3 linked regions of the Homo sapiens genome follow. The protein of the gene in region 3 purifies or fractionates together with the protein of the main gene of each other region. This does not show direct contact. Each region holds a gene or a part of one and is shown on either strand. Other genes may lie near its edges.

What was found.
Region 1: the proteins of CLEC4F (region 3) and COLEC12 purify together in Homo sapiens (affinity purification with mass spectrometry; one large-scale study listed by BioGRID and IntAct). This does not show direct contact.
Region 2: the proteins of CLEC4F (region 3) and NPTX2 purify together in Homo sapiens (affinity purification with mass spectrometry; one large-scale study listed by BioGRID and IntAct). This does not show direct contact.

What each region holds. Positions count from the first base shown.
Region 1 is NC_000018.10:347,135-350,786, reverse strand, and holds part of COLEC12 (collectin-12), read left to right. Parts: intron 1-2,623; coding exon 2,624-2,722; intron 2,723-3,445; coding exon 3,446-3,652. UniProt on the Homo sapiens protein: Scavenger receptor that displays several functions associated with host defense. Promotes binding and phagocytosis of Gram-positive, Gram-negative bacteria and yeast.
Region 2 is NC_000007.14:98,623,694-98,627,345, reverse strand, and holds part of NPTX2 (neuronal pentraxin-2 precursor), read right to left. Parts: intron 2,425-3,652; coding exon 2,180-2,424; intron 182-2,179; coding exon 2-181; intron 1-1. UniProt on the Homo sapiens protein: Likely to play role in the modification of cellular properties that underlie long-term plasticity. Binds to agar matrix in a calcium-dependent manner.
Region 3 is NC_000002.12:70,813,988-70,817,639, forward strand, and holds part of CLEC4F (C-type lectin domain family 4 member F), read right to left. Parts: intron 3,502-3,652; exon of another isoform or gene 3,211-3,501; coding exon of another isoform or gene 3,126-3,210; coding exon 2,007-3,125; intron 1-2,006. UniProt on the Homo sapiens protein: Receptor with an affinity for galactose and fucose. Could be involved in endocytosis.

The sequences.
Region 1 (3,652 bases), on a different chromosome or scaffold from region 3:
CCGGCTAATTTTTGTATTTTTAGTAGAGATGGGGTTTCACCATGTTGGCCAGGCTGGTCTTGAACTCCTGAGCTCAAATGATCCACCCACCCCAGCCTCCCAAAGTGTTGGAATTACGGGCGTGAGCCACCATGCCCGGTCTGAAGTCTTTTTTTTTAAGCTATTGATACTAAGAAGGACAGTCAGACTTGATCCCAAGCTGCTAGAAGCTGTATCTCACATAAATCACTTTTGGAGAAACATCCTCTTATTTAACATTTTAGAAACGTGTACTTGAATTCATAACTGTAGAGAATTACTGCCTTCTGAAAATGAATAAGAACTGAAGCTTTTATTTAGTGTGGCTGTATTAGTCCGTTCCCATGCTGCTGATAAAGACATACCCGAGACTGGGAAGAACAAGAGGTTTAACTGGAATTACAGTTCCACATGGCTGGGGAGGCCTCAGAATCATGGTGGGAGGCAAAAGGCACTTCTTACACGGCAGCAGCAAGAGAAAGTGAGAAAGATGAAAAAGTGGAAACCCATCAGATCTCGTGAGACTTATTCACTACCATGAGAACAGTATGGGGGAAACCGCCCCCATGATTCAAATTATCTCCCACTGGGTCCTTCCCACAACACATGTAAATTCTGGGAGATATAATTCAAGATGAGATTTGGGCGAGAATACAGCCAAACTGTATCATTCCACCCCTGGCCCCTGCCAAATCTCATGTCCTCACGTTTCAAAACAAATCATGCCTTCCCAACAGTCCCACAAAGTTTTAACTCATTTCAGCATTAACCCTAAAGTCTGCAGTCCAAAGTCCCATCTGAGACAAGGCAAGTCCCTTCCGCCTATGAGCCTGTAAAATCAAAAGCAAGCTAGTTACTTCCTAGATACAATGAGGGTTACAGGTATTGGGTAAATATAGCCTTTCCAAATGGGAGAAATTGGCCAAAACAGAGGGGTTACAGGCCCCATGCAAGTTCAAAGTCAGCAGGGCAGTCAAATTTTAAAGCTCCACAATTATCTCCTTTGACTCCAGGTCGCACATCCCGGTCATGCTGACGCAAGAGGTGGGTTCCCATGGTCTTGGGCAGCTCCACCCCTGTGGCTTTGCAGGGTACAGCCTCTCTCCCTGCTGCTTTCATGGCTGGTGTTGAGCATCTGTGGCTTTTCCAGGTGAACGGTGCAAACTGTCAGTGGATCTACCCTTCTGGGGTCTGGAGGACGGTGGCCCTCTTCTCACAGCTCCACTAGGCAGTGCCCCAGTAGGGACTCTGTGTGGGGGCTCCGACACCACATTTCCCTTCCACACTGCCCTAGCAGAGGTTCTTCATGCACATCCCACCCGTGCAGCAAACCTCTCCCTGGGTATCCAAGAGTTCCCATACATCCTCTGAAATCCAGGCGGAGGTTCCCAAACCTCAATTATTGATTTCTGTGCACTCACAGGCTCAACAACACATGAAAGCTGCCAAGGCTTGAGACTTGCACCCTCTGAAGCCACGGCCCCAGCTCCACATTGGCCCCTTTCAGCCATGGCTGGAGTGGCTGGGAAGCAGGGCACCAAGTCCCTAGGCTGCACACAGCATGGGGACCCTGGGCCTGGCCCACGAAACCATTTTCTCCTGGGCCTCCAGGCCAGTGATGGAAAGGGCTGCCAGGAAGGCTCTGACATGCCCTGAAGACATTTTCCCCATTGTCTTGGGGGTTAACATTTGGGACGGCAAGAGAAAATTAGAAAGATGCAAAAGTGGAAACCCCTGATAAGACCATCAGATCTTGTGAGACTTATTCACTACCACCAGAACAGTATAGGGGAAACCACCCCCATTATTCAAATTATCTCCCACCAAGTCCCTCCCACAACACATGGGAATTAGGGGAGTATAATTCAAGGTGAGATTTGGGTGGGGACACAGCCAAACCCTATCAGTGGCATTACTTTCCCTATCATATGCAATCAAGAAAATACTACCAAAAAATACTTCTTGGCAAATCATTGTTTGGAAACACCACTCAGGCATCTACTTGAGAACTGACAAACTACAGAATCAGTTGTCACTAACAAAAAGCAGATTTTCAGGGCCTTGTGGTGGAACTCATAACAGAAAGTGGCAGACACTCTTGACTTTGCAACCTTTCTATGCCGATTTTGTGTATAGAATTGAGCTGGGTTTTCCTTGCCAATGGAATCCTCTTCTAGGTAAATGAGTCCCACCTGCCAAGAATGTTAGGGAAGCTGATGAGTGACAACATTTTGTAAATTATCACAGTGTGCCTTGCCTTCATCTATGGAAATTAATATAGGAAATAGCAGATTAGGGACTTCTAAAATGCATGAAAATTTTTAAATTAGTTCCAAATGATTTCTGAAACATCCAAGGCATTACAGAATCATAAGAATAGTTAAGAACATACAATTCTCAACTAAGTAAATTGTACCCCTGGGTTTTGTGACAAGTAAGTTATTTTTCCAAAAAGATGGCTTTTCTTTCCTATATTTGATTTCAGTTACACTGTTTTCGTTCAATCTGTTTCCTTTGTTCCATAATGAAATGATCTCTTGTTTTGAAACTGAAAAATAAAATATGAGCAGATATGTATACTAATGCATCATTTTCCAAATCTTAGTTGTAGAGAAAATGGACAATGTCACAGGTGGCATGGAAACATCTCGCCAAACCTATGATGACAAGCTCACAGCAGTGGAAAGTGACCTGAAAAAATTAGGTAATCTGTGACAAGACTAAACCATGAAATCCCCTGACTCTACATAAATGACCACAGCTTCTTAGAATGATGTTGCTATAAACTCCCCATTCACCCGGAAGGACATTCAATTTTTGTGTTGCATGTTGAGTCTCCCCTCATGATTTAATTCAAATGCTTAAATTTTAAAGTTAAGGGTCAGTTTTGGAATTAAGTCCTGCCAAGAAAACTATTATGTGCCAAATAATATCTGAAGATCAATCCTGACTGAAAAAAAACACAAATACCCTTTATTAAAAACTGTCACATAAATAGGAATTTACTGAGCATTTTTGAAATACTTTAAACTACATAGAATTGTAGAAATTAAGTTATAAAGTGAAAGATCCTAGCATATTCTATTCCTTGATTTTTGCTTTCATTAAAAAAAAATTTGGGAAATTTAAAAGGTTAGTTTCTTCTTGACAGCCTGCCCACTGCCCTAAAATCTAGTAAATTCCCCCTCCCTCTTTGAGAAAAATGTTCAGCCAAGTTTGTCATTCCTAGTTCTGAGCTTCTTTTCCGATTCCCCAGGACCCAGTTTTAATAGATATGTACATTTTACTAATGCAGAGCTGTCCGCTTATACTGCCAATTTTGCATCTAAAATACAGTGCATACCGATTAAGTGTGTTCGGGATCTTTGGCCTTGCCTGAACACTTCTCCATACCACCAATATAAGTCACAGATATTTCTTATTCCAGGTGACCAAACTGGGAAGAAAGCTATCAGCACCAACTCAGAACTCTCCACCTTCAGATCAGACATTCTAGATCTCCGTCAGCAACTTCGTGAGATTACAGAAAAAACCAGCAAGAACAAGGATACGCTGGAGAAGTTACAGGCGAGCGGGGATGCTCTGGTGGACAGGCAGAGTCAATTGAAAGAAACTTTGGAGAATAACTCTTTCC
Region 2 (3,652 bases), on a different chromosome or scaffold from region 3:
CCTGCTCTTGTCCAAGGATCAGCACGCCCCCGGGCTTGATGGGGTGCCAGGGGGCCAGGTTCTCCCCAGTGCCCAGCTTCTCTCCGTCCTGGAATGCCTCCCACATGCCATCCCGTGTCGTCCAGGTGACACAGATGTGGTGCCACTTGCCGTCACTGACAAACAGGGGCAGCTGCGCAACCTGTGAGCAGCAATGTGCAGGTAAGGACCTGCTGGGCCCACGCCCTCAGGGTCCCCCAGGGCAGGAAGCAGGAAGGACACCCCACAGTCCCCCTGGGCCACACTGCTCCTCCTGTCACCGGGGTCATGCGTGGAGAACATGCAAGGGGGCAGCCTTGGTGGAAACCCTGACCCCAGAGCAGCCCTCACATTAATGGGACACCCTTGGTGCCTGGCGTGGCTGAGGACCGAACAGATGTGAGGGTCAACACCCCCACGCTGGCCCTGAGCTCTCCATGCCAGAGAAACTCGGGAAGTCAGCGTTCCATGGGGCCAGTCTCCTTGGAAAACAGACGAGAGATCCTCATTCCTCATGCCAAGTCCCAAACCTCCATGATGGCACGCAGGGATCTGTGTGCTGCGGGTGTGCCCCGTCCTCCCTGCGCAGCGGCACGTGTGTGAGTATCTGTGTGAGCAGGGAACTCACGGACAGCGTGAGGAACTGGGGGGAGGACGCTGCCACTGGCCGGGTCCCTGGCGGTCCTGCAAGCACTTTCTATGCAGGCTCGCCTATGAACCACCGCGTTGTTGCTGCTGGTCTCCTAGCAACCCGAAGCCTCCCTCCCAGGAATTCGATGTTTACAAGCCGTCCAAACCCAGAGGACAACAAGGCTCTTAGCCCCACTGTGTCATAGGGTGTTATTTAGAACAATTATTTAACCCCTGGCTCAGGCAAGGGGGTCTATCTAGGAGGAGCCCAGCAGGCTGATGCCACAGCGTTTTTTAAACCTCGACAGACTCCACCCAGGGCAGTTCAGTGAGGACAAACAGAGTGAGGGGCTGAACTGCCCCCGCCTCCACCAGGGGTGGCCCGGGTGGCAGGGAGTTTGCGTAGCCACTCAAATGCCCAAATCCGGACAGGTTCTGAGAATGTTCTTTTTGTTATATGGAGTCTGCCATTAGAATGAAAGTTTGGAAGCAGGGCTGTGAGAGGTCCCCAGGAGGCCCAAAGTGGCCTTTTTTTTTTTTTTTTTTTTTTTGAGACAGGGTATCGCTCTGTCACCCAGGCTGGAGTACAGTGGTGCGATCATAGTTCATTGCAGCCTCGACATCCTGGGCTCAAAGCCATCTTCCTGCCTCAGCCTCCCGAGTAGCTGGAACTACAGGTGCACACCACCACACCTAGCTAACTTTCTAATTTTTTGTAGAGAAGGGGTCTTGCTATGTTGCCCAGGCTGCTCTTGAACTCCTGGGCTCAAGCAATCCTCCTGCCTCGGCCTCCCAACACACTGGGATTACAGGCATGAGCTACCATGCCCAGCCCTTGAGAAGACCACTCCTGAATGCCAAAACCAAGCAGTCTATTAAGAAGGGGCATTTGCTCTGGAAAAGGCAAGACCATGGGTATACATAACAGGTCAGCAATGGCCATGGGCTGGGGCTGGGATCAGAGTTAACTATGAAGGGGTATGAGGGGGTTTTGGGGGGTGATGGAACTGTTTTATATTTTTTCATCGTGGTGGTGGTTACACAACTGTGTGCATTTGTTAAAACTTCCTGAATTGTACATTAAAATGGGTACACTTTGCTGTATGTAAATTATATCTCTAGAAACCTGACCCCCACCAAAATATGCTTGTGGGGAGTCTCTTACACTGAGACACACACACCCCCTTAATCAGTGTGGCCCTGGGGAACAGCCCTCACTGACCGGCCTGAGGTCCTCTCTCAATCCAGGCTGCACACGGAGATCTGTTCCTTCTGCCCTTCCATGGCCTAGGTGCCTGGACCTTCTGCAGCTTGGTGGTTGGACTCACAGCTCGGCCCCTCCCCACCCCGCCCCTGTGAGCCGCCCGGCGTGTGCAAAGCTATCCCCACCTCGAGGAGGACAGCCCCGCAGTCCCATGTCTGGGACACTGCTGTGTGGCCCGAGGAGGGCGAGGACGGCTGGGGTGGGGGCTGTGGCTCCCTCCACCACATGATGGGTTCTGGGGAGGGTGGCGGTGCAGGCGGGCCTCACCTTGTCGTTGATGAGCAGCTCGATGGGGTTGTTGCCCCACTCGATCAGCACGATCTCGTTGGCCTGCCCTGGCACCGCATAGGAGAAGGGGGTGCCAATGCCTGGTGAGGCGCTGGACCGCAGCCACAGGCAGATGGTGAAGGCGTACAGCTCAGGCAGCGTCTTCTTGATCTTGCCGTATAGGTAGTTTGTGCGGAGTGGGAGGGACACCTTGAACGCATCTGGTGACTTAAAGGCGCTATTGCCTGGGGGTTGGGAGGAAGAGAGGCCAGGAGTGCGTTAGGCCACCCCACCACCCACCAGCACGGCCCAGAGCCACATCTTGCTAGACCCACAAGAAGGTCCCTCACACAGCCTTGATGGACCCTCCAGCAAGCGACCAAAGACCGCTCCACACCAGCCACTGATAAAAGGCTGAAGTCTGGCAGGATTCAGGACACAAGATGGAGTCCTTGTCCTTAGGGAGCTTACATTCAGGCAGGGAAGGTGACATGAAACCAGCAGCAGGTACGCGAGGGAAGTCCAGGCAGTGGCTCCTGCTAAGACGGGGAGTGGCCGGGGGAGGGAAGGCAGAGGATGCAGGGAAGGCCTGGAAAGACCTGCAGAAGAGAACCCCAGACACAGGTGACAGCAAGTACAGGGCCCCAAGGACGCCCAGAAAAGGAAAGAAAAGGAAGATTTTGTGGGCACTGCATGGGGCACGTTAGAGAATTTAGCTCCATCTTTTAGGACAGGAAAAGAGGCCTCTTGAAATCTAGAAGAAAAAAAGCTCTTGGATGGGTGCAGTGGCTCACACCTATAATACCAGCATTTTGGGAGGCCGAGGCAGGAGGATTGCTTGAGGCCAAGAGTTCGAGACCAGCCTGTGCAACATAGCAAGACCCTGTCTCTACAAAAAATTTAAAAAATTAGCCAAGTGCAGTGGCTCATGCCTGTAATCCCAGTGCTTTGGGAGGCTGAGGTGGGAAGACTGCTTGAGCCCAGGAGTTCAAGAACAGCCTGGGCAATACAGCAAGACTTCATCTCTACAAAAAATATAAAAATTAGCTGGGTAGGGTGGCACACACCTGTGGTTCCACCTACTCAGGAGGCTGAGGTGGATCGCTTGAGCCTAGGAGGTCCAGGCTGCAGTGAGCTATGATTGCATCACTGCACTCCCACCTGGGTGACAGAGGCTCTGTCTGGTTCCTTCTAGTTAATACTCTCTTTTCATAAGTCATATTAGGTGACTAGAAAGCTTGAGGAAGGAGCAGAAGAAAGGTAGATTTAATTTTCTTGTGTTAAGCCAGAAACTGCGTCCTTAGCCACATCTTATAACTTCAGATATTTCCTTGAAATCTTCGCAGGATCTAGGAACCCTGGAGACTTGGGCTTAGAAGAAGGAAGTCTTACAGGGACCCAGGCACCCAATAAACACTTGTCAAGTGAATGAGTCTGTGTCACTCCTCACATGAAAGAATTACCACTGCCGAG
Region 3 (3,652 bases):
GTCTTAAGGGACTGAGGAAGAGTTTGCCAGGTGTTCAATGTTAAGGAGAGCACCCCAGGCAGGGAAAAGGATCAGCACAAAGGCATAAAGGTCAGGAACAGCCGGGCACAGCCTGATCTATTCAAGCTACTTGGTATTCTTGGGACATAAAGGATGGGTGAGTGATGAATTTGGACAGGTTCACCAGCACTAAATGGTACATCCCATGTGAAACAGTTTGGATTTTTTTTTCCCTATGAGCAATGGGAAGCACTGCAAGGTTTTGAGAAGGATGGTAATATGTCCAGATTTGCACTGGAAAAACGTCAACCTGGTGGAAGCTGAACCAGAAGAAGGTACTCCTAATGAGGACAGAAACACCAATGATAACACAATGGCGAAAGTCCCAGTAAGAGATGGGTATAAATCAGGGGTTCGAAAAGTGTGGTCCCAGACCATCAGCATCACCTGACAACGTGGTAGAAATGCAAATTTTCAGGACCACCATAGCCCTACTGAATCCAAAATTATGTTTTAACAATCTGCTTCAGCAAGCCCTCTGGGGGTTCTGATGCCCAGAACTAGTCATCTAAACCAACCATTGGCAAACTCTAGCCTGTCAGCAGTGTCTTTTTAATAAAATTTATTTTATTATGAGCGTAGCCATGCTCATTAGTTTACTGTCTTTTTCTTTTGCTTTATAATTACGAACAGAGTTGAGTAGTTGTAACAGAGATCGTACAGCCCCAAAGCCTAAGATATCTAGTTCTTTGTCCTTTAAGAAAAAAAATTAAGCTAATAGTTCTCAGCCCAGATGCCAGTAGATCCACCTAGGCATTTAAAAAAGAATACTGATGCCAGACACCCTCACCAAAAAAAAAAAAAAATCACAGTTCTGGAGGTGGGTCCCCAGGCATCAGTATTTTCAAAGCTCCTTGGGCGATTCCAGTGTGCCCCCAAAGTGGAGAAACACTGGGCCCAGCTAAAGCAGCAGTGAGAGCTGGGAGGAATAAGGACATTGGGGCACTAGGAGATGTGTGAAGAAGTGGGGCCTCTGACCCCAGACCAGGAACCGGGCAAAGCAGTAAAGTGGAACGTCACTGCTGCCCACCAAGCCCTCATTTGTTAGCCCCCATTTCTTCAGTGGCTGCCCCAAACACTCCCTTCTGTCTCTCAGCTGCCCTCTTGTCCACAGGCCAGTCAAAGAGAACTGCCTGAAGTTTCCAGAATCTCATGATTTTGTGTCTCCATGCCTGCAAACCCTATTTGCTTGGCAAACACCTACTCATCCTTCAGGATGAAGTTCAAGAGCCATCTTCTCACAAAGCATCTTTTGATCTTTTCCCCACAGATCTCTTCCCTCCCCCTAGAAGATTCCTTTTCCCTTCTTTTTGTTCTGCCCCCAACCCCAGTTCTCAGTACCTGCTTCTAACCTATCAGCCTTATACCTGTCTGTATGTCTTTCATGCAAGTCTGTACTACTAGCCTGTAAGCTTCTCAAGGGTACCTATCACACCTTATTCACCTTTTTACCCAGCACACCACTGGGCCTCAATAAAGCATCGGGTGAGGGCATGAATGCTAGGTACTTTGTTAAAGGCCTTACATGTGTGAACTCATTGGATCCTCACTGTGATGCAAATATTATTGTCTCCCCCTTGCAGATGAGAAAAGTGTAGCTCAGAGAAGGTAAGTAACAGGCTCAAGGTCATACCATTTGGGGTATCAGGAAGTCAGAAATAAGGCTGTGTGGCCCACTAGCCCATGCCGTCCTTATCACACACGTGCACCATTTACAGTTGGTTTCCCGTGTTCATTTGGTCACCGTGACCAGGTTATAAGCAACTTGAGAGCAGGAACTTCCCACCTCACACCATCTCTACAACTGCCCAGTTTCCTTGGGCCCATTTCCCTGGATTTGGTCAAGGAGATGCATGTTGCAGTAAAAAAGAGGCTGATGAGATGGAAGACTCTACCCTCTCAAGAGACTGTGCCCTCCCCAAACGCGACTCCCCTCTCCCACTTACTTTGGGTTCTTTGTAGCTGTTCCTGTGAAGTAATGACCACATGGAGGGTCTTCAGGCGACTCTGCTCCTGCTGGATTTCCATGGTTAGAGCTTTGGTGTTCTCTAGATCCCCTCTTAACCTCTGGATCTCGGCACTGGCCTTCTGCAGATTGCTGTCTAACATCTGGGTCTGGGAAGTTAAGGCTGAAGCATTCTTCATTCCTTGTTTTAGGGTCTGTATCTCTCTGCTGGCATTTTTCATATGACCATTTAAGACCTGAATCTGGGCATTTAAGGTATTCACATTTTCCATCTCTGACTTGAATACCTGAATCTGAGTATCTGTCTGGTCCAGACGGCCATTTGCTTTTTGGGTCTGGGCTGTGACCATTTTCAAATCCCTTTTTAACACGTGAATTTCATCACCAGCTCTTTCCAAATGACCTCTTAAGAACTGGATCTCAGCACTAGTGTTGTCAAAACTGCTTTTTATAAAGGCCTGGGTCTGGGAGTTTAAAGCATTTGTGTTCTGCAAATTTTCCTTTAGTCCCTGGATCTCAGCATTGGCTCCTTCCAAACTATTTCTTAAAACCTGGTTCTGGGTCCTCAAGTCATTGACACTATCTAGATGGCCTCTCAAAACATAGATCTCAGCATTAGCGTTCTTTAAACTGCTATTGGCTAACTGAGCCTGGGTATTTGCCGTTTCCAAACTGGCATTCAACATCTGAATTTCAGAGTTTGCATTTTCTAAGCCTCTGCTTAGCACGTGGAGCTCAATGCTGGTGTTTTCTAAACTGCTTTTTAAGAAATTCAGCGTCTGGAAAGTTAAAGCATCTGCCTTTTCAAGGTCTTCCTTGAGCCTCTGGATCTCAGCATTGGTTCCCTCCAGGGAACTCCTTAACATCTGTGTCTGCAAACTCAATGTAGTGGCATCCTTTAGAACTCCTTTTACCATCTGGATGTCAGCATTGGTGTTTCCCAGATGATCACCGAGCACCTGGAGCTGCGAATTGACATTGTCCACTCTGCACTTCAACATCTGGATTTCTACTACCCAGGCACTGGAATTCTCCATGTGGCCTTTAAATGTCTGGATAAGCTCTCGCATTTCTGCCTCCCTGCCAAAGTGGTGATGATCTGGAGGGAGGAAGTGAAGAAGGCAGCCAAAGAGGCCCATTATGTAGGGTAGCATTTTATGGGCCACCCAGAGTGTTTCTAACATTTCCAAGGGAAATGGGTACTGCACAGCCCTCAGTGCTCCCCCAAGCACCCTCCTGGTCACACAGCCACCCAGACCCTGGGGACGGTCCACCTGAGAATGTGGGCCAAGAAACAAAGATCTAATTCACTGTTACACACAAATGAAGGGGTCAGAAGGATTGAAATGCTTGCCTGCTGTAAGCCAGCTGCCACCAGGAGTCATGCTGGTAAGGCTTGGATTATTTTGTCGTTATAATTGCTCAACTTGAAAGTAACTGATTTTATCATTTAGAGCTGTTGAAGTTTAATTTTACTGGAATTTCACCACAGATGGGTCATTATGGGAAAGAAAATAGGTATGAATAAAGCCTGTGGTTAGTCCTACATTATATTTGTACACCAAGCATAGAGCCTCTTGATTCACCATTGTTACTTGATAAAAACCACCACAAACATAAGTTTTA